Homo sapiens: one gene and its partners. The protein of the gene in region 3 purifies or fractionates together with the protein of the main gene of each other region. This does not show direct contact. Each region holds a gene or a part of one and is shown on either strand. Other genes may lie near its edges. The genes, in order: PKP3, DUSP14, MAS1 and TMEM11.

Region 1 (7,020 bases), on a different chromosome or scaffold from region 3:
TGAGGTTTCCCCGAGCCGGACCATCCGTGCCCCTGCCGTGCGGACCCTGCAGCGATTCCAGAGCAGCCACCGGAGCCGCGGGGTAGGCGGGGCAGTGCCGGGGGCCGTCCTGGAGCCAGTGGCTCGAGCGCCATCTGTGCGCAGCCTCAGCCTCAGCCTGGCTGACTCGGGCCACCTGCCGGACGTGCATGGGTTCAACAGCTACGGTAGCCACCGAACCCTGCAGAGACTCAGCAGCGGGTGAGCGGCTGGGCCCGGCTCAGGGAGGGGGCTTCTACCACGGGCCCAGCCTGAACCCAAAGTTAGCCTGACCCCTGACCCCTGGCTCCGCAGTTTTGATGACATTGACCTGCCCTCAGCAGTCAAGTACCTCATGGCTTCAGACCCCAACCTGCAGGTGCTGGGAGCGGCCTACATCCAGCACAAGTGCTACAGCGATGCAGCCGCCAAGAAGCAGGTGACCACCCCGACCACCCACTCGCTGCCCCCTGGTGACCTCCTTCGTGGGCCCCACCACCTCCCACTGTCCTCTGCTCACTGAGCACCCCTCATGATCCCCAAGCTGACTGGGTAGACCCCACTCTGTCTGGAGCCCCCTCAGCAGAGGAAGAGCAGAAGGATACAATTTGGATACACCAGTATCACCTGCATCACCTCCGTACCCCCACATATACCTCATCACCTCCGTACACCCGCACACACCTGCGTCACCTCCGTACCCCCACATATACCTCATCACCTCCATACCCCCGCACACACCTCCGTCACCTCCGTACCCCCGCACACACCTGCATCACCTCCATACCCCCACACACACCTGCGTCACCTCCGTACCCCCGCACACACCTGCGTCACCTCCGTACCCCCGCACACACCTCCGTCACCTCCGTACCCCCGCACACACCTGTGTCACCTCCCTACCCCCACATATACCTCATCACCTCCGTACACCCGCACATACCTGCGTCACCTCCCTACCCCCACATATACCTCATCACCTCCGTACCCCCGCACACACCTGCGTCACCTCCCTACCCCCACATATACCTCATCACCTCCGTACACCCGCACACACCTGCGTCACCTCCCTACCCCCGCACACACCTGCGTCACCTCCGTACCCCTGCACACACCTCCGTCACCTCCGTACCCCCGCACACACCTGCGTCACCTCCCTACCCCCGCACACACCTGCGTCACCTCCGTACCCCCGCACACACCTGCGTCACCTCCCTACCCCCGCACACACCTGCGTCACCTCCGTACCCCCGCACACACCTCTGTCACCTCCCTACCCCCGCACACACCTGCATCACCTCCGTACCCCCGCACACACCTGCGTCACCTCCGTACCCCCGCACACACCTGCGTCACCTCCCTACCCCCGCACACACCTGCGTCACCTCCCTACCCCCGCACACACCTGCGTCACCTCCCTACCCCCGCACACACCTGCGTCACCTCCCTACCCCCGCACACACCTGCGTCACCTCCGTACCCCCGCACACACCTGCGTCACCTCCCTACCCCCGCACACACCTGCGTCACCTCCGTACCCCCGCACACACCTCCGTCACCTCCGTACCCCCGCACACACCTGCGTCACCTCCGTACCCCCGCACACACCTCCGTCACCTCCCTACCGCCGCACACACCTCCGTCACCTCCCTATACGGCTGCATCCCCTGCATATCTACATCTACGCACCTGGACACAGCTGCACACAGGTGCATAGTCTGCATCCATCCACATGCGTCTGTGCACCCCCATATGCCTGTGCCCGCAGGCCCGCAGCCTTCAGGCCGTGCCTAGGCTGGTGAAGCTCTTCAACCACGCCAACCAGGAAGTGCAGCGCCATGCCACAGGTGCCATGCGCAACCTCATCTACGACAACGCTGACAACAAGCTGGCCCTGGTGGAGGAGAACGGGATCTTCGAGCTGCTGCGGACACTGCGGGAGCAGGATGATGAGCTTCGCAAAAATGTCACAGGTGCTGCCTGTCCCCTCCTCCACCTGTCCTTCCTCCACCTGCGCCCCTCTGCCTATCCCCCCTGCCTTCCTCCCCACCTGCCCCCCTCCACCTGCCCACCATCTGCCCCCCTTCTCCACCTGCCCCCTCTGCCACCTGCCCCCCTACTCCTCCTCCCCCCCTCTGCCTTACCCCCCCACCTGCCCGCCATCTGCCCCACTCCTCCACCTGCCCCCTCCTCCACCTGCCCCCTCTGCCTGTCCCCTACTCCTCCTGTCCTCCCTCTGTGTCCCCCCCACCTGGCCCCCCTCCTCCACCTGCCCCCTCTGCCTATCCCCCACCTGTCCCCCCCTCCACCTGTCCCCCTTTTCTGCCTGTCCCCCTCCTCCTGTCCCTCCTCTGCCTGTCCTCTCTCCTCCGTTCTGACCCCTCCACCTCATTCGGTTCCCCTCCGTCCCTTTGTACCTTTTGCCGGCCGTGTTTCTACTTGGGCCTCCACTGCCCGCCTCTTTCCTGGACCCCCGGCCACCCTGTCCTGTGGTTTTGTCTCCTTGGAGCCGCCTGCACTGCCAGGCCTGCTCACCACCCCACCCCCACATCTTGTCCCCTCTTGCTTGGTCCCAGCTCTATCACCTCAAATGCCACCCCAGGGTCTCCCCAGTGGGGCTCGTGGGTGAGGCACAGAACACCAGGCCAGCCCCTGGGGAGAGGCGGGACCTCTTCACACCATCCCCAGAAACGCGGAGGGGGTTGGAGGGCAGACGCTGATAGCAGCCTCCCCCGTCCTCCAGGGATCCTGTGGAACCTTTCATCCAGCGACCACCTGAAGGACCGCCTGGCCAGAGACACGCTGGAGCAGCTCACAGACCTGGTGTTGAGCCCCCTGTCGGGGGCTGGGGGTCCCCCCCTCATCCAGCAGAACGCCTCGGAGGCAGAGATCTTCTACAACGCCACCGGCTTCCTCAGGTGCGCCAGCCTCGGGCAGCGGGGTGGGGATTGCAGGCGCGGGTCACTGTGGGGACTCCGCCTGGCCTGGCGTTCGCAGCCCACACACCGCACGCCTCGCGCTGGGGATGGGCGTGCGAGGGCCCACGATGGGTTGGGGCAAGGCCCGGGATGCGGGGTCCCTGGGGGGCTCTGATCCACCTCGGTCCCCAGGAACCTCAGCTCAGCCTCTCAGGCCACTCGCCAGAAGATGCGGGAGTGCCACGGGCTGGTGGACGCCCTGGTCACCTCTATCAACCACGCCCTGGACGCGGGCAAATGCGAGGACAAGGTGAGGGGCGCGGTGTGGAGGAGGGGCCGTGCCCCCGGGCCGCCGCTCTGACCCGCGCCCCTGCCCCGCGCCCCCGCCCGCAGAGCGTGGAGAACGCGGTGTGCGTCCTGCGGAACCTGTCCTACCGCCTCTACGACGAGATGCCGCCGTCCGCGCTGCAGCGGCTGGAGGGTCGCGGCCGCAGGGACCTGGCGGGGGCGCCGCCGGGAGAGGTCGTGGGCTGCTTCACGCCGCAGAGCCGGCGGCTGCGCGAGGTGGGCACCAGCCTGAGCGGGGCGTGGGGTGGGTGCTGCGACCCCGGCCCCGCTGACCCCGGCCCCGCTCACCCCCGCCCCGCTCACCCCCGCCCCGCTCACCCCGCCCCGCTCACCCCGGACCCCGCTCACCCCCGCCCCGCTCACCCCCGACCCCGCTCACACCCGCCCCGCTCACCCCCGCCCCGCTCACCCCCGCCCCGCTCACCCCGGACCCCGCTCACCCCCGCCCCGCTCACCCCCGGCCCCGCTCACACCCGCCCCGCTCACCCCCGCCCCGCTCACCCCGGACCCCGCTCACCCCGGACCCCGCTCACACCCGCCCCGCTCACACCCGGCCCCGCTCACCCCCGCCCCGCTCACCCCCGGCCCGCTCACACCCGGCCCCGCTCACACCCGGCCCCGCTCACACCCGCCCCGCTCACCCCCGGCCCCGCTCACACCTGCCCCGCTCACACCCGGCCCCGCTCACACCCGGCCCCGCTCACACCCGGCCCGCTCACACCCGCCCCGCTCACCCCCGGCCCCGCTCACACCCGGCCCCGTTCACACCCGCCCCGCTCACACCCGCCCCGCTCACCCCCGGCCCGCTCACACCCGCCCCGCTCACCCCCGGCCCGCTCACACCCGGCCCCGCTCACACCCGGCCCCGCTCACACCCGCCCCGCTCACCCCCGGCCCCGCTCACACCCGCCCCGCTCACACCCGGCCCCGCTCACACCCGGCCCGCTCACACCCGCCCCGCTCACACCCGCCCCGCTCACACCCGCCCCGCTCACCCCCGGCCCCGCTCACCCCCGGCCCCGTTCACACCCGCCCCGCTCACACCCGCCCCGCTCACCCCCGGCCCGCTCACCCCCGGCCCCGCTCACACCCGGCCCCGCTCACACCCGCCCCGCTCACACCCGGCCCCGCTCACACCCGGCCCCGCTCACACCCGGCCCCGCTCACACCCGCCCCGCTCACCCCCGCCCCGCTCACCCCCGGCCCCGCTCACCCCCGGCCCCGCTCACCCCCGACCCCGCTCACCCCCGACCCCGCTCACCCCCGCCCCGCTCACCCCCGCCCCGCTCACCCCCGACCCCCGGCCCCGCTCACCCCCGACCCCCGGCCCCGCTCACCCCCGGCTCCACTGACCCCGGCCCCGCTCACCCCGGACCCCGCTCACCCCCGACCCCCGGCCCCGCTCACCCCCGGCTCCACTGACCCCGGCCCCGCTCACCCCGGACCCCGCTCACCCCCGACCCCCGGCCCCGCTCACCCCCGACCCCCGGCCCCGCTCACCCCCGGCTCCACTGACCCCGGCCCCGCTCACCCCGGACCCCGCTCACCCCCGACCCCCGGCCCCGCTCACCCCCGGCTCCACTGACCCCGGCCCCGCTCACCCCGGACCCCGCTCACCCCCGACCCCCGGCCCCGCTCACCCCCGGCTCCACTGACCCCGGCCCCGCTCACCCCGACCCCGCTCACCCCAGACCCCCGGCCCCGCTCACCCCCGGCTCCACTGACCCCGGCCCCGCTCACCCCGGACCCCGCTCACCCCCGACCCCCGGCCCCGCTCACCCCCGGCTCCACTGACCCCGGCCCCGCTCACCCCGGACCCCGCTCACCCCCGACCCCCGGCCCCGCTCACCCCCGACCCCCGGCCCCGCTCACCCCCGGCTCCACTGACCCCGGCCCCGCTCACCCCGGACCCCGCTCACCCCCGACCCCCGGCCCCGCTCACCCCCGGCTCCACTGACCCCGGCCCCGCTCACCCCGGACCCCGCTCACCCCCGACCCCCGGCCCCGCTCACCCCCGGCTCCACTGACCCCGGCCCCGCTCACCCCGACCCCGCTCACCCCCGACCCCCGGCCCCGCTCACCCCCGGCCCCGCTCACCCCGACCCCGCTCACCCCCGACCCCCGGCCCCGCTCACCCCCGACCCGCTCACCCCGACCCCGCTCACCCCCGACCCCCGGCCCCGCTCACCCCCGACCCGCTCACCCCGACCCCGCTCACCCCCGCCCCGCTCACCCCTGCCCCGCTCACCCCGGGCCCCGCTCACCCCCGGCCCCGCTCACCCCGACCCCGCTCACCCCCGACCCCCGGCCCCGCTCACCCCCGGCCCCGCTCACCCCCGCCCCGCTCACCCCCGCCCCGCTCACCCCGGGACCCGCTCACCCCGACCCCGCTCACCCCGGACCCCGCTCACCCCCGCCCCGCTCACCCCGGACCCCGCTCACCCCCGACCCCCGGCCCCGCTCACCCCCGCCCCGCTCACCCCGGACCCCGCTCACCCCCGCCCCACTCACACCCGACCCGCTCACCCCGACCCGCTCACCCCGACCCGCTCACCCCGACCCCGCCGACTCCTCCCCGCCCTGCGCAGCTGCCCCTCGCCGCCGATGCGCTCACCTTCGCGGAGGTGTCCAAGGACCCCAAGGGCCTCGAGTGGCTGTGGAGCCCCCAGATCGTGGGGCTGTACAACCGGCTGCTGCAGCGCTGCGAGCTCAACCGGCACACGACGGAGGCGGCCGCCGGGGCGCTGCAGAACATCACGGCAGGCGACCGCAGGGTGGGGCACCCAACCCAGACCCGAGGGGGTCCCAGGGGTTCATGCGGTTGAGGGGGGGACAGAGGAGGGAGAGGGAGGGGAGGAGGAAGGGGACGCCCAGGGTCCGCGGAGCCTCGGAGGTCAGCGTCCCGGTGGCGCAGGCCTTGGGCCTTGGGAGGATGGAAGTCCTGCCCTGGGTTTGAAGGGAGGCACCTGATCCGGGCTGCGGCTGATTCCCCCCGGCTGGGGGGCAAAGGCAGAAGCAGAGGCCCCCCTGAGGGTGGCGAGAGGATGCAGCGACCCCATTGTGGCAGGACCCCCTCAGGTGAGGGTCTGAGGCCTCCGGGTCACGGCTCACACCCTCCCTCCCCACAGTGGGCGGGGGTGCTGAGCCGCCTGGCCCTGGAGCAGGAGCGTATTCTGAACCCCCTGCTAGACCGTGTCAGGACCGCCGACCACCACCAGCTGCGCTCACTGACTGGCCTCATCCGAAACCTGTCTCGGAACGCTAGGAACAAGGACGAGATGTGTGAGTCGGGCAGCCCCTCGTCCCTGCCCTGCTGGACCCACATGTCAATTTTGTCTTTAAGTGTGGGCTTCAGACCACTGGGGCCAGTCCAGCTCCCTGGGGGAGGCAGGGGACCCCAGGTGCCCAGGTGGCCAGGAGTAGGGGTGCAGACTGACCCCCGGCCTCCCACAGCCACGAAGGTGGTGAGCCACCTGATCGAGAAGCTGCCGGGCAGCGTGGGTGAGAAGTCGCCCCCAGCCGAGGTGCTGGTCAACATCATAGCTGTGCTCAACAACCTGGTGGTGGCCAGCCCCATCGCTGCCCGAGACCTGCTGTATTTTGACGGACTCCGAAAGCTCATCTTCATCAAGAAGAAGCGGGACAGGTAGGGGCCGACCCAGCCGTGCAGCAGCCTGGTCAGGGGTCCTCCCAGTCCACCCTGCTTTCTGGCTGTGTGTCCCCTCCTGACTGCCCT
Region 2 (7,690 bases), on a different chromosome or scaffold from region 3:
TGTGGTTGGTAATACCTACCTGACTGGGTTGATGAAGATTAAATGAGCCGGGTGTGGTGGCTTACGCCTGTAATCCCAGCACTTTGGGAGTCCAAGGCGGGTGAATCGCCTGAGCTCAGGAGTTTGTTTGTTTTTTTGTTTTTTTGTTATTGAGACGGAGTCTTGCTCTGTCGCCCAGGCTGGAGTGCAGTGGCGCGATGTCTGCTCACTGCAAGCTCCGCCTCCCGGGTTAACGCCATTCTCCTACCTCAGCCTCCTGAATAGCTGGGACTACAGGCGCCCGCCACCACGCCCGGCTTTTTTTTTTTTTTTTTTTGTATTTTTAGTAGAGACGGGGTTTCATGTTAGCCAGGATGGTCTCAATATCCTGACCTCGTGATCCGCCCGCCTCGGCCTCCCAAAGTGCTGGGATTACAGGCGTAAGCCACCGCGCCCGGCCTGAGCTCAGGAGTTTGAGACCACCCTGGGCAACATGGTGAAACCCTGTCTCTACTAAAATACAAAAAATTAGCTGGGCTTGGTGGCGCACGCCTGTGGTCCTAGCTACTCGCACCACAGCACTCCAACTTGGGCTACAGAGTGAGACTCTGTCTCAAAAAAACAAAACAAAAACAACAAAAGATTAAATGTGTTAAGGTATATAACACACCTGGTGCCTCCCTTCCTTTTCTTTTCCCACTGAGCCTTTGACATTTAGTTTCACTGCGGTCAGGTATGAGCAAGTACATGATTTTCCTGTACCACCCAATTCACATCATGCAAAAGTCTCACAGAGAGGGACATGAAGATCTGCAAGAACAAATGTTAAAACAGACAGATGTGCATTTTACAAGGATGTTGTTTATCTTGAAATTCTCATCACTGCATCATTGCTACTGCCCAAGGGTTGAATTAAGGGCAAAACATTTCAGAGACAGATTTGAAATTACCTAATTATCCTAGACATGTTGTAATGTTCCCTTTTATAATGCCTGGCTCAAAAAGCTTGATGTCAGGTTACAGAACTGTATGCATTCTTTGATTGTAATTGTGTTAACAATAGTAAAAAATCTTGCATACAATCAAGACCAGAAAGAAATCCAGATGCTAATTGTTGTTTTGTTAAGTAATAAAATGGTGGTAAGCAATGCTTTTTCTCTTTTTGCTTTTTTTTCTTTTTCTTATCTGTAATGTGACAATTCTTTATTACTTGGAAAGTACATTTTATGAGAACTGTGAAAACTCGGAAAGTAGAAGTTCAAAGTATTTTACATTTAATAACATCTAGCTAATCCTTATGATATCTAGATAAGGTGCTACTTTACATCTTATGAAATAGCACAAGCCTTAGGCAAACTTCTGTAGTAGAAGAAATGTGTTCTGAGACTTCTGAGACTTCTATCTTGCTAGTTTTTAAGATATCTTTTCTCCCAGAAACCTGGTGTCCAGTGTCCCTCTCAAATCTGCCAAAGGACAGTAGCTTAAAGATTTACTTATCTCAGGGGAGTTGCATTTTTATAGCCATCAATGGCATATAATTTGGAATTAGAGGCACAGGCAAGCAGGCCTTCCGAATCTCTGTGAGCCACAAGACCCGATGGCACCCTGAAATCAAACTTCTGTAGACTGGGAGCCTTGTTGACCGCTGTTCCCCAATTCTGACAGATCAAAGCTGTTGCTAATTTGTTAACCAGAGGCAGTGATACAAATGGAAGATGCAACTATTCATTCTGAGGGACGCATAAAAGTCTGATTAATCTAAGGAGCAGTCATTGCCCAAGCAGTTAAGGAGAATATTTTTGGAAAGGCAGACATCAGAAGCTAAGCAGAGTACAAATTTCCACCCTCTACTTACTGTATTAATCATATCAGCTCTCACTCTTCGTAGATGCTGCCCTGCTCGAAAGCACTGGTTATTTAGCTGGGAGTCAGGAGAACCCAAACCCTCCCTGGGCATAGACAAATTGTAATTTTATAGCAGACAGCCTCTAAAATGTTTCTACATCCACAACAGTTGACACTGCCAGGCGCAGTGGCTCATGCCTCTAATCCCAGCACTATGGGAGGCTGAGGTGGGAGGATTGTTTGAGCTTAGGAGTTCGAGACCAGGCTGGGCAACATATTATTTAAAGAGACTAGGTCTCTTTAGTAATAACAAGGCCAGGTGCGGTGGCTCACGTCTATAACCTCAGGGGGCATCACCTGAGGTCGGGAGTTCAAGACCAGCCTGACCAACGTAGAGAAACCCTGTCTCTACTAAAAACACAAAATTAGCCAGGCGTGGTGGTGCGTGCCTGTAATCCCAGCTACTCGGGAGGCTGAGGCAGGAGAATCACTTGAACCCGGGAGGCGGAGGTTGCGCTGGGCCGAGATCGTGCCATTGCACTCCAGCCCAGGCAACAAGAGCGAAACTCCGTCCCCCCCAAAATAATAAAAACTAATTAGCCAGGCGTGGTGGCGTGCCTGTAGTCCCAGCTACTTGGGAAGCTGAAGTGGGAGGACCACCTGAGCCCGGGAAGTGGAGGCTTCAGTGAGCCATGATTGCACCACTGCACTCCATCCTGAAGCCTATCTTAAAAAAAAAAGAAGAAAAAGTGACACCTATAAAAAAACTCACATACTTATAGTCCAGAAATGTGCTGTCCAGTAAGGTAGCCACTAGCCACATGTGGCTATCTAAATTTACTAAAATAAAATTTTAAATTCACTTCCTTAGTTACACTAGCCATATTTCGTGTTCAGTAGCAACATGAGGCTAGTGGCTACTGTACTGGAGAGTGGAGATACAGAACATGTCCATCATCACACAAAGTTCTACTGGACAGTGCTGGTCCAGAAGAGAATAACTTCAAATTGCATTTTTGGTACAGGCATGTATAAGCCCGCACTTCCACATTCTGTAAAGGCATAAACCGCCTCCCTACCCCAGGGCATGTCTGTACAGTCATTAAATGGTCTGACTCCAGCACTTCTTTCTACTTAATCTCTAAATCTCTAAATCTTGACACGCACATCGCACACAACACAAACTCTATTTTAGCCCACCTCCCTCTTCACTGACTCTTCATGGTAGGTTTAGTTCCCATAATCCATGAAAATGCCTAGCTCCTTGTCACTAGAGCTTGTTTTGGAAACCTGCCTACAGTGTAACAAGCTGGAATGTGAAGAGGGATGCATCTATTTGTGTTGCTGAGTCATTGAATTGACTGAAGCTTCAAGGACTAGGGGGTGCTGAGCAGAAATGAAAACACACAATCCTTTCTGTTAGAGATTTGCTCTTTTCGTATTGGCATGTAAACAAGTAAGTCACTAAGTGAACTGACGTCACAATTTAGTTTTAGGAAGATGCTTTTCCCAGGCACGATTTGAACTCAGTGGTTTCCTGAATCTAGCAAAGTATGCTGCTTTGTTTTCTCTTAGATTAATTTTGCCTAATTTTAAAGCTTTGATTCTCTTTTTACGAAGACGAAAATAAATCTCTCTAGTCTGGGCCTTTTTCGTTTCCCAGGATTATGATTAAAATTATCACTAACTTTTAGATAGTCCAGCACGCACCGGATGACTCTGAAGCCGGTTGGGCAGTGGAGATCGGGAAGAACATGAAAAAGCTTCAAAGCTTTTGGTTGAGGACATCGGGAGATGTAAACCCCAAACGCGGGTTTTACTTCTCCCCTCCACCCCTCCCCGCAAACCCATGCCTACTCGTTTTGACTGCTCAGCAATTCTGAGGCCAACCATTTGCAACGGCGAGGAGCAGGGGCTGGTGAGTCAAGGACTGGGCATGGAGTCAGGACTCTTAGGTGCCTTGACTCACGGCAGAGCCTTGAGGAAGTCGCTTTGCCTCCCACGTGTCTCCCTTCACCTGCCAGAGGCGGAGGGGAGGCGGGGCTGTGCTGGAAAACGTCCGTTTCGCACCGACTTATGTTACAGATGGGCAGACCTGAATTTTAAAAGACCCTCAGAGTCACACAGCAAATGAGCCCTCAAATGCCCGTGTCCCGCCTGCGCTCCGGAGAACCCCTGCCCTGCCTCGGGGACTCGGGAGGTGGGTGTGGGCTCCGAGACTCGGACGGCACCTTGGCGTGGCGAGAGCAGGTGGAGATGCGCACGGAGGTTGCATGTTCACCTCCGGGTCTCGGGCGCCACGGCTGCCCGTACCTGTTCCAGCAAGCGTCAGCCAGGAACTGCCGCGCTACTGATTTTCCCTTCGCTCTTGGGTCCCAACCCCCGGGCTCTCCGGGCTAGGGAGGCGGTGGGGTGGGGTCGAGGCCGTCCCGAGCCACCCGCGGCGGCTTCACACCTGTATCGGATTTGCTTTCTCGCCTTTAATCCTCTCCAATCCCGAAAGCACCCCAGCAGAGCGCCCCCGCAGCCCGCCTCGAGCCCGGCTCATACGCAGACGCTGACTGGGGAAGCGAGGGGTCGCCGGTGTGTGAGGCAGGGTAAGAGACCAGGGGACCTGCACGGAGGAGCGCTCTAGGGGAGGCTGCTGCCTCGGGAGCTAGGGCGCGCCCGGACCACACCGCACGGCGCAGAAGCCCAGCGCGCACGCGCGCCGCCTGCCGCCCCGCGCGTCCCCCCGCCCCGCGTCGCGTCCCCCCACCTCGGGAGAGGGCGGCCAGGCGCAGGGAGCGTGCGCGCGGCCCGCCCCGGGCGCGGGCGGAGGGAGGAGGAGGCGGCGCGCGCGGCGCCCAGCCCGCAGAAGCCGGTGGCCGCGCAGGAGGACGGAGCCCTAACCGCAACCCGCTCCGCGCCGCGCCGCGCCGGTAGGGGACCCGCAGGCCCGGGGGTGGGGGTTGTGGGGAAGGTGTTGGGGTGGGGCGGGAGGGCGGGACTTCGCGCTTCGGGTCCCTGGGCGCAGGGGGACCCAGAGGCCCGCGCGACCCCGCCTCTGGAAACTTTGTGCCGGCGCCCCCACCTGCTCCCTGGCGGTCCTTGACTCTTCGGGGCGGCCCGCGGAGGAGAGGCCCGAGACCTTCCGCAGCGCACCCTCGCCGGCCCTGAGCGTGCGCCCCCTGCCGCTCCCCCGCCGCGCCGCGCCGCCCCCGCGACCCTGTCCCTGTGCCCCGGGGCTCCAGCAGCCTCGGCCGCGCCTCCTCCGTCGCCTTCCGACCCCGCTGAGGCCGCCTACTCTCGCTGGCATCCACCCGCTCTGGAGCGCGCCGCCGCTTTTTGCATCTCCCCGAGGTTTCTGGTGCATGGATAGAAGCAACTTGACTTTCAGCGATGCCAAGTGTCCAACTTGAGTCTTTCTCTGCGGTGGTAGATGGGTGTGCGCGGTGCTAACATCTGTCTTTTTATTTCTCCTAAGTACCCTTGCTCCGGAGCGAAGTTGAGTTGTTGTTTGTAAAGAGGGGGTGCGTGCTGTGGCCGCCTTAAGTGGATTGTATAACTGTATTTTATTTAGGTGGATGTTGCCAGTGGTACCAGCCAGTGTTATGGTAACTGGGCATCCCAGAGGCTAGGGAAGGAGGAGCGACTTACAAATGCAGTTTTACCATGCAGAGATTTTTTTTTTTTAAAACCACCTTGTACTTTCTATCCAGCAGGACCTCCGGACATTTAGTGTGTGTTAACTCGTTAGCTGTTCATTATCGTTTTATAAGAGAGGGGGGTGGAGAGCGTTACCATCCCGTTTTACAGATGTAAAAACGGAGGCGAAGAGCAAACTCCGGGTATCCTTAGTAACCTTAAAAGAATAGGGACCAAGAGATTTAACCCAGAGTCTCCTGGAATTCCTAGTCCCTAAGGCCACTCAGAAGTATGATGGAATGTTGGACCGTCCTCCCTGACATTCTACAGATCACTTAAGAGTCAGAGAGGCCGAGGCCAGCCGGCAGCTCCATGCCTGAGACTCAGCTCTGCCACAAAGTTAAGTAACACTGGACAAGTCACAGTTTCTCTCCGCTCATTTCCTTCCTGCTCTCTAAAACCAGGGGAACAAAGGTGCTGTATTCTTTGCAGAGTTGTGCGTGTGTCTGGAAGCTCCACTCCCTTGAGCTGCGATTTGGTTATTGTTAGTTGTTGTGGACTCATAAAGGCCCCCAGTCTTGGTTCCCTTGAGAAATGCAGGGAAGGAGGCACCCCCACAGTGAACGCCTCTTCTTCGCCAGAGACGCCTGAGAATTCACATCAGGGACACTTCACATCAGGGACAGGCCGGGGCAGAGACCCTGACCTGAGGGAGGGACGAGGGTTGCCACGAGGAGGTAGGAAGGAGCCCTGCACAGGAGGCTTGACACATGGGCCCTATTCCTGCCTCCAGCTCTGACTCATCTTCTGACGCTTGGGGGAGGAGAGGTAGTTGCTTGGTATTTTTGGCTTTCCACCATAAAACTGGAGACAGTTTCCTTCATTCCAAGTCGTTTTAATGTCACTGTTGAACGTGTGTGTCCTGAGTTCTCATCTGAAAGCTTTCATATCGGTTGACTGCAGGTATGAATTCTGTAATAATAATTAATAGAATGGCATAAATGTATATTCATATCATAAAAGACTAGCCAAGTATGTAAGTCCAGGAAATCCTTTAATACTTTAACATTTTTAAAAAGTGGGCTTTAGGGAGGGCTATGTTTGATGGGTTCCTTTGCAATTGGGATTTTAAGGCAAAATGGATTAAAAATGCTTTTCCCAAAATCACAAGAAATACATTAACCATTCTCTGTGAGATTTAAACTTTACTAATAAGGTTAAAGCTTTCTTTTGAACCTCTTCCTCAAAAGTAACTGCCGAGTGCATCTTGATCGGTTTGTGTATATCTTTTTAGACTTTTCTAAGCATTTTTATAAATGTCCGTTTGCACAAAGTGGTTTTTTAACCGAAATTAATTATTTTAAAGTTGACTTGTCCTGTTTATAAAGATTTGGCTTCTGTCAAGAACAAGTAATGTGTTTAAGTACAACTGTTGGTAAAGTTTTAATAATCCTGATAGACGGTGTTACTTCCCAGGGCAAGGGGCAAATTACCCCTTTTAAACAACTTCAAAGTAGTAGAATCATTACGATCCTAGGTTTTACTCTTAGGTGCTGAATAAAACTTTCCTATTTAAAAAAAAAATCTAGGACTACTAGCCTATTGTCTTGTCTTTGCTTATAAAGAAACGTCAAAGGGAGTGGAAGACAGGGAGAGTTGCTAAAGCAACCAAGGCCTGGGTATAAACTTACAGAGCTAACATTTAAGATGGCTTTATTATTTATGAAAGCTTCACTTCACCTGGGTGAAGACAAAGGAAAGTGTTAATGTGGGCACCCTTCAAACCGGTAATTTCAGGAAATGGATGGGTTAAAACAAAATTCATGTCAGGATTCTGTGGATTTATATATTATACATTTACCGAGGACTTTTACCATGCTAAAGGTGCTGTGCCTGAATACAGAGGAAGAAGGCAAGTAAGGTCGGTCTCTGACCTTATGAAGCTGACAGGCAAATAGTGACATTCAGAGAGAGTTGGCCAGAATTGTTGTCATGGTTCTGAATTCCCAGAAATCAACATTAGATTTATTGAATTGTGAATTATGTAAAAAAGTGTCTAAAACAAATGGATAATTTGATGGATTATTTTAACGAAAACATAAGTGTAACTGTCTTGCAGGTCAAGAATCTGACTCCACACTCTCTCCCTCCCCCAGAGGTCCTAGCCAGAAACTACCCTGACTTTTATGGAAATCATTTCCTTCTTTTCTATAGTTTTTATCCCCTAAATATAAATCCC
Region 3 (7,787 bases):
AAAACAGCAATCCAACCTTCCCCGCTGGTCCACACTTCCTCCAATATGCCTAATAGCCTTCCAACACAAAAAACTGGACACTTTACCATAATCTTGTATGTCCCCTGCCCTAGTGCCTAGAATCAGCCATTTCTCCAAGGAGCCCTGGTTCCTTTCAGTAAATAATTATATTTAGAAGCCAAGATCTGGGTGTAAAATGTGCTCATTGCATGGAGGCTGTCGCTGCTCCCAGCCCCTCTCAGTGGCAGGGCTAAGGAATATATGTACATAGATAACATTTATGTATAGTCATACATACACACACCTATGGCTGTATTTCTATGTCTTTTTATATCTTTATAAAATATATACATATAATCATAAATTGACACCAATATCTCCAGTTTTGACCCACCACCAGTGAATTCATTTGAGTTTTCTCCCTCTCCATATTTGTAACTCCCTTCTCTGAGAAACCTGGCTCCCTTGGCCCTCTATGCATTTACTCATTTGATCAACCCACCTATGAATGGTTGCCTATGTCTGCCACTGCTCTTCCCCTGCCCCTGCACAGATGCCCTCCTCACTTTGTTGGGCCCTTTTACTTCCTGTTGGACCAGTGCTCCCCCTGCCCCCTACCCTGAGACACAGACCTCACACTGCAGGAGCTCCAACACCCAGCACCAGTTCCCTGTACCCCCCATGCAGATATCCTGCCCTGCCCAGCACTGACATCCCCTGCCATGTCACCACTGCCACTGCCCTCACCCCGGCGTGGCTGCCCCCATGGGGATGATCCTTGCCTATTCAGGCTCCAGCACCTCACACAAGACACCATAAGCCAGGGTGACCATGGTGGAAAGTAGGACTTAACACCCACCACCTTCCTGCAAAACTCAAAGAATTGTGGGCAGTATCGCATCTGAATGCAGAAGAGACTTTTGAGAAGAGGGGTTTTGACATTGATCAAAGTACAGTGCAGAGGCCACAGCCTATTCTGCTTGTGCCTACGGCTGCTTGGCCTGGGAGCTGCACTTTCAGTCAAACTGACCATGAGAGGCAAGTCCTCCATCAAGCAGATTAACCCCACTGGGTCTCAACTGCTTCACATGCTGGCATTTTAATGTAGTTTGAAAGGCTGGGGTATAAGAAATGCTAGAGATTGAACAGCACTTTGCCAATATGAGTCTCATGGAAATGCCAAACTGAGATAATGAATCAACAAGCAGGGAAAACAAGCATGGTGGTTTCCATTGATGTGTAAGGATGTGGGCTTTGCAGAGCCTGTGTCCTGCCAGGTCCACCTGAGATTGCTGGCTGCAATTACCTCTCAATGAAAGTGAGAGGAACAGATGGGTGGTGGAGCTGATAGAAAAAACAAGGAGACTCAGAGTCAGCAGAGAGTTCTAAATGCCATACATTTATGCTGCTCAAGTGTTCTCTAGAGACCTCAGAAGCAAACAACCCCTTCCACATTCCCATTCAGTTGAGCACAGTCCTTCCATGGCCCCAGATACCCAGCCTAGGACATCACTCTTAGAAGAAAGAAAGAGGGGGCTGGGGAGAAAGGCAGGGAGAAAAAAGGAAAGAGAGAAAAGCCAATAAAACTCAGGCTGGGGGAGTGGGCCATCTGAAAGCGCCTGTTGTTCCCAGGCAACTTAAAAGACAGCCTGACCCTAGGCTGGATTTCTAGGTGTGCAGATCCAGAGAAAAGGGCAAATTCTTCCCTGTGTGTGTGTGCAGTCACCTGGACAAACAGAAACCCATTTGTGAGATGGAATTTCCATGGCAGGCAAGGGCTCCGATGGGAATGTACAGGGCAGGACCATCTGTCCTGGTATTAAATGCATCATTCCCGTCTTCCCCACACTAGGGCCATCTGTACGCAGAAGCAGAGACTTCTTGCTCCCTTTCCAAACATACCACAGGATCAATTTAGAGCCCTGGTCTAAAAGGGGGGAAGGTGATTTTGTCCCCTAAGGGATGTTTGGCATGCCTGAAGATATTTTTGGTTGTCACAATGGAGAGGAGTGTGCTACTGGTATCTAGTTGGTAGAGGCCAGAGATGCTGCTAAACATCCTATAATATACAAGACAGCCCACACGGCAAAGAATTACCCAGCCCAAAATGCCAGTAGTGCCGAGGCCGTGGCACTCTGCTAGAGGCCAGCTTCTTACCACCTTTTTACTGCTGCACCCATAGCAATCTAACAACACACTATACATTCTCTCACCAAATTACTCCTAAGTATCCTGGCTGGGAAGTGTTGCTAAGACGCTCATACCAAAGATCAAGACTGGGCAGGAGATTCCTTTTAACAGACATCTTGTCACCAAAGGAATGCATACGGCTTCATAAGCAACAGAAGCTAATACTGATGCCAGTGCCCACTAAGGAAAAATGAAGAAAAATCAATACAGCTTGCCCCTGTGATGCCAAAGAGCTGATAGCCAAGTGATTTCTCCAGAGGAATCAAATTCAGTAACAACTCTTTCAAACCTCAACTTCTTTATCATTCATAAGCTTTCATTAAGCAGCCTTGAAAACCTCCAAGTCCACCATTCAAACTGTGAATTGATCCTAAGATTCTTTCCCCTGCAACGAGTTAAAAAAGAAAACGCTACTGCGAAGTTTCAACCCTGAAGTTGAAAAACAATGTCTGGGAACAGTTAACTCAGCAAAGAAGTAAATTTTCCAAAACAAAGGCAGGAGGAAAGAGAAGTTTTTGCCAACACACACCAACGGCAAACATCTAACACACCGAAAAAAATAAAAGAAAGAAAAACCAGCACAGAAAAGAGTTATCCAAGAAATAGCTTTTTAAAGAGAGAAAATCTTACTCTGGTTGTCAAGGACAGCTAAGCAATGAAAAACTGGGACGCAGACTCACTGGTGTCATTTGCTCAGGAAGGGTCAGACGTGGCCAACAGGTTGGCTGCCCCTTCACATCTGGGGCATCAATGCCCAGCCAGCCTGCAGGGTCTCCGGTCCCAACATCTCGAAGGATGGCTGCAGCCTCTCATCTCTGAAGGAATCAGAGCTGCTCTCCCACTGCTGAAAATATTTGAGATGTGCCAAGCAGATGGTCCCACGCTTATCAGCAGAAGCTTCCAATGGCATCATTCAGTGACACACTCAAGTGAAAATCTTCACGCCAATCCAGAGCGGGGTGTGAGCTGGTGATAATGCAAGGCAGTGGATCACCTTGAACCACTAAGGCCAGCCAGGGCTAAAGAGAAAGATGACGTGGAGAAATGCCACATGGAAGGGCAAAACCGCATGTGTAGTAGAAAGACAGAACCATCTCAAATTCCCAGCTCAGTTTCTAATAAGTTATGTGACCTCTGCCAAGCTCTCTAAGACTTGGTTTTCTCATCTGTAAAATGGAGCTAATAATATTAACTCAAAACCTAGTAATGATGAGATGAGTCTATGTATAGACCCAGAGAGACATACGGGAGACACATGGCTAGATAGTTAAGGATTTGTTCCCTTCTCCAACCCAGTTTCGGAGAGTATCATGCTCAGTGTAGTATATAAGACCCGTAGGATGCTATGAAAAGCAAGCAAGCCAAGGAGTGTGTTCAGGGGTGAAGGCAGGGGTCTGCACCATTGGCCATGCCCAGACTGCGTCCCAGCCTGGTCCGGGGGCTCCTCCTGGGAGTAGCTGTTTCTGTTAGATGCCAACTCTCACCCGTGCAGTCAGGAACATGAGAGCAAATTCCTTTTCCCCGATCCCTGTTCTGCATTTTTTGTGTTTTTGTTGTTGTTGTTGTTTGGTTAGGTTTTTTGTTTTTCTACCTTTTAAAAACCAAAAATGGCCAATATGTTACCCATTTTTCAAATAACTCAATGTGAAGCCCCAAAGGCTGAGAATTCTGGATCTCTTGGATCTCAGGTAGCCAAGTCTGAGATCCCAAGCCTGAAGACCCACCCCTCACTCAGGGTAGCATTTTCTCTTGTTTAAAGGGATTCCTTCATAGATATTGTGCCAAAGTATTAAGAACCTCGGGGACCAACTATATCAAAAGGGGTAAGAAGGCAGTTTCAGACTCTGTGGGAAAGCAGACATAGGAACCCACAGATGAAGTTCCCCTCCGACTGTTTTCGTAAGCAGGAAGACCATAGTCCCAGGGCAGAGCCAAACTACTCTTGTGGGAAGCCTGACCAGCAGCTCGGCCCTCCCAGTGGGAAGAAGAAAGGGGAGAGAAGAGAGCTTCCCCTGAAGCCAGCAGGCATCTACTGGGTAGGCAGTGCTGAGCAGCAAATCAACAGACCAGGTGAACTCGGTCTTGAAGTTGGAAAGGTGTTCTCATTACCTGGTTCTGATGCTCCAAGGAAGGAGAAGTTCAGCCTCCTGAAGAACTTTAGTTTCCCAGAGGATGGTCAGAAACTAAAAAGGAAACAGGCACCATCTAAAGCAGACTGCAAGGCAGAAAAGAAGGAGCACGGGTGGGAAAGGATCAGACCCACGGAAGAAAACATGATTAGGGAAAAATAAGAGGCTGCCCAGGAAGCTTCCAATCCCAGCAGGGGAGGAATTGATCCCGAAGGAAATGAGGGATGAAGGAGATGGGATACGACAGAGGGATCCTCTCTGCTCCACATTCGCTGCTTCTCAGATCAGGGGCTGCCCAGATGTTATGAACATTTCACCCTGTCCCCATGGGTGCTGTGAAACCCTGCGCAGAGTGACCAACTAGAAGGAGGACTCCAACGTCATTATGTAAGTCAACAGAACAGAGGTCCTCACCAATTTGCTTTTTCCAGTGCCTAACAGAAGTCTGTCCACACGGGCAGAGGACAACAAGCTGCCCAATTTGGAAATTGATAATGGTCCCAAGGTGAATGAAGAGCAAGCCGCCAGGAAGCCAGGGTGGCCCGATGGCTTCTAGGTAGGGAGAGAGTCTCCAAAGGGGTTGGTGGCCGGCCGGGAGAGTCAGAAAGAGGTGGCTCTCTTTGCCCCCAGCTTGAGTGGGTGGCGGAAGGCCCCAGTTGTTTTGTGACTAATTGGCACCACTAACAAAGCAGGAACTATCACAGATGGAGCTGGAGTCGCATTTTTGGTAGATAATGATTTATCCTTAGAGAAAATACAGCAACTCACTGTAAAAATAAAACTGCTTGCATTTAAGCCACAAATAGGTTGGCTATTTCTGTGCTTGGTTTGTCTTTGTGAGTAATCATTCTCCCCTTCAGAGGTGGGCAGAGTTTGAGGGGAAGGAGGTGTAGCAAGAGCGGGTAACAAAGCAACTGAACCTGGGGAAGAGGAGGGTCTGGAGCTCCAATTTCCGGCGGAAGTTCTAGCATCCACCTCCAAGTCACACCTTCCAAAGTTCCCTAGAGAAACAACATCCCTCTTTCTGCCATCAAACAACAGAGAACCATAATGAAGGGGGCCTGGTGGAGGGCCTTATGGGAGCAGGGAAGAAGGAAGCTTATTTACCCACGGCCACGCAGCAGACCCATAAGTGGCAGTACGCACAAGTGGTAGGTCCGTTTAAGTAGGGTACAGTGGTAGAATCCCTACGTAGACCATAAGTGGGAGAGCCCGTAGGCACCCCAGTAAGTGGCAGAATTCCTTTCTTCCATCAGTGCTTTACCCTAAAGCTCCAAACCCTCTCCGTGCCTCTTCACTCAGCGCTAAACCCAAGGAAGTCTAGAGAATTCAAGTCACATCCTAAGATGTGCTCCTTATCTGGAAGGAACTCTTCTACGCCCTCGACGCTGAGCCTATATTCTGGGGAGATAACCATTAAGTGCCTCACAAAAGCCCAGCACTCCCCTCCGTGTTAGAAAGATGGAGAGTCAGGAGGGCAGGGGGCTGGGCTGCACCGACGGAGGGAACGGTCAGTGCCTGAGTGCTCACTTTCACAGAAGACGGTTCCAGAATAAGAAGTGGAAACACACGGAAGGTCCACAGAATGGCAGGCAACTGGCTTAGGACACATTGTCTCGGTTCACCATTCAGGAGCAGAACAACTTCAGGTATGCTAGAAATTTAGACTTGCAAACTTGACCGGAGGGACGAGTGATTATCCCATCTGTTTGACTGACAGTCTCAGAGTGGAACTGGTCTGCCCTCTGCCCTCTGGAGCTGCAAAAGAGGCTTCAGACCTCATTGACCAGATAAAAGCCCAAGATAAAACCCTGAGAACAGAACTCTCCCAGGCTGATCGGATCCCCATCAGCCTCAGGGAATCTTCTCCAGGCTTCTGCTAGCCAACCCTGCCCTGGAATTGGTTGGGTCTGTCCCCAGTAATAATCTTTACGCTCAGCATACATTTCTTAAACATCAGATCTGAAAGAGAAATGACATTTTCTCCCCGACGTGCTCGGTTTCTTCCAGCTAGTCAGGTCCACATGGGGGAGCATAGTGAGAGTACTACAAAGGGCAGAAACTATATAGCTATGAAAACGGGGAAGCAAACCCACCAGACACAGTGCAAGTAGTCCTCCAAGATGCACCCTGGGAAGGGCCCAAACAGAGCACAGCTGCAGATAAGAATTCAGCATGTGGGAGGCTTTGCTTCCAGCCCCCAGGGCCCCCCCAGCCTCCCCTCAATCATAGGAATCTGCCCAAAAGGAGACTTCTCATCTGGCACAAGTGCCTTTGCGGAGCAGTGAGGAGGATGTGAAGTGACCAGAGTCGGGCATCCCTAATCCAGGATAGCTCTTCCACTGAGGGGCGGGGCGAGGCTCAGGGAGCTGCTTCCCTCCTGCGGGAGAGCCTGGGATGGTGTCCGCTGCCCCAGAGATCATCGCAGTGGACAAACTAGACCTCACTAGTTCCAAAAGGAGAACTCCCAACTAATATAGCTCATATAAATAAGAAAATAAATAAATGCCTCTCTGAGTCCCCCAGAATCACCAGATATCATATCTACAGGGCTGGCTAAAGTTTGCAGCAGGAGAAAATAATTAGAAAATAAACCGAGCATGCTGTGAGGCAGCCCGGGCCAACATAATAAAGATGGGGAGAAGGCAGGGGTGGCACCGGGTGCCAGGGCAGGGTGGGGAAGGAGGGAAGAGGAGAGGAGCACACTCCATCCCCGGGGGGAGATCGGGGTCTGCCTGAAGAGGCTCACACGCTCTGACGATTTGGGAAAATACCTTTACCCCAACTAATTTTCCTCCCTTCCTCTCCCCTCTTTCCCTGGGAATCTTTGTTAAAAGGGCCCCTGAGGAAAACCAGTGCCAGAGCCCTTTGCTCAGGACGGATGATCTTGCTCACAGGGACATCCCTAGAGAAAGTTCGCATTGAGTCACAGGTGAAAATGTACGAGCACTTCGTGGATGACTCGCTCGATCCGACGTGAGAGCTCATCTCCGCTTCAGGTGTGTGTACTCCTGTCCGTCCCTCCTCCAGTTCAGCACCATCTGGGTTAATAGAGCTATACAGGAAGTCCTCAAAATTCCTTTTTTTTTTTTTTTTTTTTTTTTTGCCCCCAGGAGTCACAAGGACATTTCTTAAGTGCTTAATATTTTATCCCCATTTTACAGATGAGGAAAGTGAGGCTTGCAGAGTTTAAGTAACTTGCCCTATCTCCCTTGTCAGAGCAAGGAGAGAGCGACACCAGAGTGCACCATCCCCACCTATACCTAGGACGTAAAAGCTGTAAAGTATAAACTCATTTTCATTCTCCTCTTCTTTTTTTAATCTCACTTTTCTCTTTTTTCTAAATCCAGAACACCATACTAGAAAGTTTTTTCTTGAAAAACTTTGGAAATAATTGTGGAGTGGGAGATGTTCAAAAGTATGTGCTCATAATAAATTCACAGCAAAAGGGACTTCATGACATTCACG
Region 4 (7,020 bases), on a different chromosome or scaffold from region 3:
GGCCAGGTGCAGTGGCTCATGCCTGTAATCCCAGCACTTTGGGAGGCCAAGGCAGGCGGATCACCTGAGATCAGGAGTTCGAGACCAGCCTGGCTAACACGGTGAAACCCTGTCTCTGCTACAAATACAAAAATTAGCTGGGTTTGGTGGCACGTGCCTGTAATCCCAGCTACTTGGGAGCCTGAGGCAGAAGAATTGCTTGAACGCAGGAGGCGGAGGTTGCAGTGAGCTGAGATCATGCCATTGCACTCCAGCGTGGGCAACAAGTAAAACTCCGTCTCAATAAAAAAAAAAAAAAAAAAAAAAAAGAGAAAAAGGTAGCAGCAGTAACAGCAAAGTCTCCAACTGAAAGCAAGTTCAGGGGAAAAGGCAGGGTTCAGAAGAGTGTTTACAGTATGCTATACGTAGTGTATTTTTAAAAGTCTCTATTTGCTTTTATATGCACAGAACACTTCTGAAAGGATACACAAAGACCTGATTTTTATGACTGGTCACTAGGGAGGGAACTGAGGGGCTCAGGAAAGAAAAGGAAGGGAGGCTCTTTCTAGTAAATGACTTTTGATCCTTTTGAATCTGGCATGATCTCTGGTACTTAAAGATCACTGTCGGAAGTGGGTCTTAACATATGGAAGAAGAAAAGTAAAAGGATCAGTGTCATGATCCTAAACACATCATGCCAGCACTGAGGAAGCTTTGGATTCTCTGAGCCTTTAGTGCTGGGAGCAGGGGTCAGCCCGTTCCAGCACCTCAGGGGGACTGCTGCAGACACTGAATGGGACCGCTCTCTGCCGCCTCAGGATAGCTTGCAGGCACTCATAAAGTGGGCATCTTGAACTTCCTCCCTCAGCCTTCAACCAGAGTCAGCCTTCAGGCCCTCATCTCTCCACTTTTGAGCCCAACTCAATCAGCTCTCGCAGTCAGCAAAGGAATCCCCTGGCAACACTAGCATTCCAGTTAAAAGGCGGCCACAGTGAAAACTCAGCAGGGCAACTCCACGGCCCCTCTGGGATGTGGGCAGCCTGTGCCTGTCCCAGCAGCCACAGTCTGGAGGCGTCTCCCCAAAAGGCAAGAGCCGCACAAGAAGGTTCAGAGCAGAACTGTTCGGTGAGAGCAAAAGATGACAGGAGCGGGGAGAGCAGAATCGCACCTCCTCCATTAGTGACATGAATCAGTTCCAGTGGCCTGAGCCAGGGATACAACTCTCACACATTCTAAGGCGGCAGAGCTCAGGGACGTGCCACTGAAAGCCAACTATAAGGACAGCAAGGGTGCTGTGGTGCACTTGGGGCACAGGGTCTCCGCTGCAGGAGGAGGCAGGCCAGGGTAACGCTAGTTCTCTATCGCGCTGGGTGGGGAGCCCACACAACTATCACTTTGCCTTTTTTAAAGTGTGGTAAAATACACGTAAAATATACCACCGTAAGCACTTTTAAGTGTACAGTTCAGAGGCACTAAGCACATGCACACTGATGTACCAACCATCACCACCATCCACCTCCAGGATTCCTTTACCTTCCCAAACTGAAACTCTACCCATGAAATGATCCCCCCATTCCCCACCAACCCCAAGCCCCTGCAAACTACCATTCTACTTTCTACCCCAATGAATCTGACTATACAAGTACTTCATACAAGTTGGATCATATATAGTATATGCCCTTTTGTGTCTGGCTTATTCCACAGAGCATAACGAGTCTTCAAGGTTCATCCATATTGTAGCATGTATCCGAATTTTCTTCCTTTTTAAGGCTCAGTAATGTTCCACCGTATGCATAAACCACATTTTGTTAATCCATTCATCTGTGATGGACACTTCGGTTTCCACCACTGGCTATTGTGAATAATGCTGCTATGAACATGGGTGCACAAACATCTCTTTGAGTCCCTGCTTTTTTTGGGGGGGGGGTATATATACCCAGAAGTGGAACTGCTGGATCATATAGCAGTTCAATTTTTTAGTTTTTTTGAGGAATCTCTATACTGTTTTCCAGAGCAGCTGCACCATTGTACATTCCCACCAGCAGCGCACAGGGGTTCCCATTTCTCCATATCCTCACCAACACTTGTTATTTTCCGTTTTCTTTTCTTTTGAGGCAGTCTCGCTCCATTGCCCAGGCTGGAGCGCAATGGCGCTATCTCGACTCACTGCAACCTCCGCCTCCCGGGCTTAAGCGAGTCTCCTGCCTCAGCCTCCCAAATAGCTAGGACTACAGACATGTGCTGCCACGCCCAGCTAATTTTTGTATTTTTAGTAGAGACAGGGTTTTCACCATGGTGGCCAGGCTGGTCTCGAACTCCTAAGTGATCTGCCAGCCTCAGCTTCCCAAAGCACTGGGATTACAAGTAAGAGCCATTGTACCTGGTCTCATTTTCTTTATTTTTATTTGTTTATTTATTTTGTGGAGACGGAGTTTCACTCTTGTCACCCAGACTGCAGTGCAGTGGCACAATCTCGGAGCACTGCAACCTCCACCTCCTGGGTTCAAGCAATTCTCTTGCCTCAGCCTCCCAAGCAGCTGGGATTACAGGCACGTGCCACAACGCCCAGCTAACTTTGTATTTTTAGTAGAGACAGAGTTTCTCTATGTTGGCCAGGCTAGTCTCGAACTCCTGATCTCAGGTGATCCCAAAATGCTGGAATTACAGGCATGAGCCACCATGCCTGGCCTGATTTGTATTTTTTAATGGCAGCTTTACTGAGATAGAATTCACAGCTTTACTGAGATAGAATTCACAGAGCAACTCCCCCATCGGAGGTGAACGATGAAGTGGCTTTCCCAAAGTTGTGCAACCAATAGCACAACTGATCCTGGTGCATTTTCATCATCTCAGAAAGAAACCCTGTACCAATTAGTGGTCCCTTCACATCTCCCCAGCCCTCCACAACCACCAGTCGGCTTCCCAACTCTCTGGATATGCCAATTCTGGGTATTTCATTTAAATGGAATCCTGTAACGTGGTCTTCAACAACTGGCTTCTTTCATTTTGCATTATGTTTTTAAGGGCCATCATGCTGTGGCATGTTTATTACTTTTCACATATTGTAAACATAACTTTTGATGTGTTTAACATATAACTTTAAAAAATCTAAGATAAGGCTGGGCATGGTGGCTCACGCCTGTAATCCCAGCACTTTGGGAGGCTGAGGTGGGCAGATCACCTGAGGTCAGGACTTCAAGACCAGGCTGGCCAATGTGGTGAAACTGTGTCCCTACTAAAAATACAAAAATTAGCTGGGCGTGGTGGTGCATGCCTGTGGTCCCAGCTACTTGAGACTGAGGCAGGAGAATCGCTTGAACCCCGGAGGCAGAAGCTGCAGTAAACCGAGACTGCACCACTGCATTCCAGCCTGGGTGACAAAGTGAGAGTCCGTCTCAATAATATAATTTTAAAAACCCCTAAGGCAAGATATATAAGACAAAGTATCAAAGGTGCTATACATGAAAATAGATCAGGCTAGGCGCGGTGGCTCACGCCTGTAATCCCAGCACTTTGGGAGGCCGAGGCGGGCGGATTACCTAAGGTCAGGAGTTTCAGACCAGCCTGGCCAACATGGTGAAACCCCGTCTCTACTAAAAATACAAAAATTAGCCAGGTGTGGTGACAGGCGCCTGTAATCCCAGCTACTCAGGAGGCTGAGGCAGGAGAATCGCTTGAACCTAGGAGGTAGAGGTTGCAGTGAGCCAAGATCACACCACTGCACTCCAGCCAGGGGGACAAGAGCGAGACATTGTCTCAAAAGAAACAAGAAAATAGATCAACAGTGGTTTTCTTTGGATGGTGGCCTAATAGGTGACTTGTCAATTTCTTCATGCTTTTCTATATTTTTTAAAAAAAAGTGTTTCTTTTTTTTTTTTTTGAGACGGAGTCTCGCTCTGTCGCCCAGGCTCAAGTGCAGTGGCGTGATCTTGGCTCACTGCAAGCTCCGCCTCCTGGGTTCACGCCATTCTCCTGCCTCAGCCTCCAGAGTAGCTGGGACTACAGGCAATCGCCACCACGCCCGGCTAATTTTTTGTATTTTTAGTAGAGACGGGGTTTCACTGTGTTAGCGAGGATGGTCTCAATCTCCTGACCTCGTGATCCGCCCACCTCGGCCTCCCAAAGTGTTGGGATTACAGGCATGAGCCACTGCGCCCGGCCAAAGTGTTTCTTTTATAACAGGAAAAATAATTATAAACTTATTCTTAAAAAGAAAAATTCTGTTCAACCCTATATCCCTTGAGGTAAAGGGACCAGATACCCGTGGGAGGGCCTCCTTCCACTGCCAAGAAGAGCGGGAGGTGGCTCACTTCCTGCTCCAGAACCTTCTCGGTGTCCATGAAAGGCAGAAGTCTGGACGCGGGCAGCTTCTCATGGCTGAGGTGTCATGCTGGTGTGTACCTGTAGTCCTGCCCAAAAAGAGGAGGGCAGTTCCAGCTCCGTTTCCCTTGAGCAAACACTGGCTAAGCTGCCAGGCCAGCCACCAATCACCTTCCCAGTTCTGAGAGACCCAGCAGAGGCAAATCTGAGTGGAAGCATCCACATTAGGCCCCTTCTTGGAGTGGGGCCCGGGCTCACAGGCAGGCCTGAAGCTCCATGAGGGCAGAGGCTGCATTTTCATCGTAGTTTCCCCAGCACTGGGCCTGAATGTAACAGGTTCCCAAAAGACACAGGTTGGAGGGACATTTGTAATGATTACAGACATGAGCCACAGGAGTCACAGGAGGAGAAAAACAATTATGGTTATTAAGAGAACTGGTACCAGAAAAGTCAACCCATCCGTCAGGCTGCTTTTCACTTAGTGAAAGGGTCACTTGATCACCTATGATACAGGAGGTGCTGGGCTGGACCTCCACCCGCTTCTGCCTAATTAAGCCCTGCTTCTTTGGGACCCACAGAAAGCAGAGGACTGAAGCAGTGAAAGCCCGTGCCCCAGACTCAAAGGCACGGGCATGCGGCCCCATGGCCTGAGGACGGCTCCCACAGGCCAAGGAACTTTCACAGGACACCCAGCCCTTTCGTCTGCTTCAGAGGACACTTTCCTATTCTGCGCACTGGTAACTCAGCAGCCCTTCTATCTGGGGAGCAGGAACACGGCGCACCAAGTGTGGGAGTCGAGAGGGTGGATTCAAGTTCCCTCTCGGCTGCCTACTGGCTTTGTGTCCTAGGGCAAAACACCCGGCCCCTCTGAGCCAGTTTCCCATGTTGTCAAACGGGGCCAGAGGCCCTGGCTCTCCCAGAGGACTGCAGTGAAGATGGGAACAGTCGCCAAGCACTGCCCCTCTGCCTAAGACACATGTGGCTGTTGAAATTTAAATTAATTAAAATTAGACATCTTAAAAAATTCAGTTCCTGGCCGGGCACAGTGGCTCACGCCTGTAATCCCAGCACTTTGGGAGGCCAGGGCGGGTGGATTCCTTGAGCCCACAAATTTTAAGACCAGCCTAGACAACATGGTGAAAACTCTGCCTCTACAAAAAATACAAAAATGAGCTGGGCGTGGTGGTACATGCCTGTGGTCCCAGCTACTCGGGAGGCTGGGGTGGGAGAATGGTTTGAGCCAGGGAGACGGAGGTTGCAGAGATCCGAGATCATACCACTGCACTCCAGCCTGGGTGACAGAGCCAGACCTGTCTCATAAAATAAATAAATAAATGAAACCTCAGTTCCTCAGAGCCACACGTGGCTAATGGCTGCCCTAATGGACTGCAGGGACACGCCAGGAGTCTGTCATGCCAGAAACTCCTACTGGACAGCCCTGCTCTGAAGAACTGTTATGACTACTACATGGCTGTCAGCTTTTCCTGAGAACTGTGCCCATAAAGTGGCTGCTGGCACCAGGGCGGAACACCGTGGCAGTCAGGAGGTTCCCGGGTGTGCTCGGTCATGGAGTGCTGCCCAACTCCACCCCCCGCACCTCGCTCATTGAAGAACAGGTGCACACCGACAAGCCGGGGCAGAGGAGCCACCTCCCCACCTCCGTGGACCCAGGCGCAGCCCTCCCCTCTTCAGAAAGGGGAGCCTTCCCTGGAACATGACCTAAAGGACTGAACCACTGAGACACAAATTAATGCACTTGGAATCCAGGCTGCTTGAGTGAACCAAGGAAAACAGAAATTCTTGAAAACTTGAAGGCACATCAATACTGAAGAGGATGAACCCCATCCTTACCTACGAATCCAACTTCTGCGGCCAGAACATGTGGCTTTGCCTTTGTTAAAGAGCTGAGCAGAATCCCACAACCAGTGGCTAAACCCCCACACACTTGGGTGCAGATCCCGTATCTGCTCATCTCATCCCAGCCAGAAGGAAACAAAAACTCCCGCCACACACAAAAGCAAGCATGGAGTCTTTCAAGAGAGATTAAATACTCCCAAAGCCTGAGAGTCTAAAAGGGAAGGATCAGATCAGAAAGGGAAGCTGTCACCCCGGGACCATGACCCAACCTGCCCCCGGGGCCTGTGCTCCATCTGCTCACTGGATGAACGTGTAAGGGCCACCTGGGACCAGGCACACCTGAGTTCACAAAGAAGAGGACAGGTCCTGGGGAATAAAGCATGGCAAGGAAAGCCATGAAAGTCAGCCCAGGGAACTGGCTGCCTATAAAACGCTGGAGCAGATGGCCGCGCAAGCCAGGGGAGGGGCAGGCCACAACAAATAACTTCGCGCTAAACCTGAACTTTTAGCCCCGTGCATCTGGCCCTCTGCACACCCCAGGTTGCCTCATATCATGCTCAGAAGCAGATCAAGTACATCTTCACGTGATTATAAAAACAGGAACTCAAGAGCACACAGCTATACTCACATTCCAACAATCACGGAGGGCTCTGGGAGGTTCAGGGGCCCTGAGACAGTGAAGCCGAGCAGCCCAAGTAAGACAGGCAGGGCTGTCTGTGAGCTGGTCCGGGCTGGCACACGGTGGCAGAACACAGATACCTGCACTGTGCTTTCCTAGATGGGCAAGTGTGTCTCAAAGACGCCGACAGGACAAGTGGCAATCTGTTTGATGTGCTCGTTGCCAGTGTGCTGAATTTTGGACAA

The links.
Region 1: the proteins of MAS1 (region 3) and PKP3 purify together in Homo sapiens (affinity purification with mass spectrometry; 2 studies listed by BioGRID and IntAct, with this or other methods). This does not show direct contact.
Region 2: the proteins of MAS1 (region 3) and DUSP14 purify together in Homo sapiens (affinity purification with mass spectrometry; 2 studies listed by BioGRID and IntAct, with this or other methods). This does not show direct contact.
Region 4: the proteins of MAS1 (region 3) and TMEM11 purify together in Homo sapiens (affinity purification with mass spectrometry; 2 studies listed by BioGRID and IntAct, with this or other methods). This does not show direct contact.

The regions. Positions count from the first base shown.
Region 1 is NC_000011.10:397,206-404,225, forward strand, and holds part of PKP3 (plakophilin-3), read left to right. Parts: coding exon 1-240; intron 241-333; coding exon 334-457; intron 458-1,786; coding exon 1,787-1,991; intron 1,992-2,761; coding exon 2,762-2,936; intron 2,937-3,128; coding exon 3,129-3,246; intron 3,247-3,329; coding exon 3,330-3,500; intron 3,501-5,872; coding exon 5,873-6,058; intron 6,059-6,412; coding exon 6,413-6,566; intron 6,567-6,737; coding exon 6,738-6,930; intron 6,931-7,020. UniProt on the Homo sapiens protein: A component of desmosome cell-cell junctions which are required for positive regulation of cellular adhesion. Required for the localization of DSG2, DSP and PKP2 to mature desmosome junctions.
Region 2 is NC_000017.11:37,485,214-37,492,903, forward strand, and holds the start of DUSP14 (dual specificity protein phosphatase 14), read left to right. Parts: upstream 1-4,677; 5' UTR 4,678-4,745; intron 4,746-6,319; exon of another isoform or gene 6,320-6,414; intron 6,415-7,690. UniProt on the Homo sapiens protein: Involved in the inactivation of MAP kinases. Dephosphorylates ERK, JNK and p38 MAP-kinases. Plays a negative role in TCR signaling by dephosphorylating MAP3K7 adapter TAB1 leading to its inactivation.
Region 3 is NC_000006.12:159,886,217-159,894,003, reverse strand, and holds the start of MAS1 (proto-oncogene Mas), read right to left. Parts: upstream 3,017-7,787; 5' UTR 2,871-3,016; exon of another isoform or gene 2,821-2,870; intron 1-2,820. UniProt on the Homo sapiens protein: Receptor for angiotensin 1-7. Acts specifically as a functional antagonist of AGTR1 (angiotensin-2 type 1 receptor), although it up-regulates AGTR1 receptor levels.
Region 4 is NC_000017.11:21,204,152-21,211,171, forward strand, and holds part of TMEM11 (transmembrane protein 11, mitochondrial), read right to left. Parts: exon of another isoform or gene 6,785-7,020; intron 1-6,784. UniProt on the Homo sapiens protein: Plays a role in mitochondrial morphogenesis.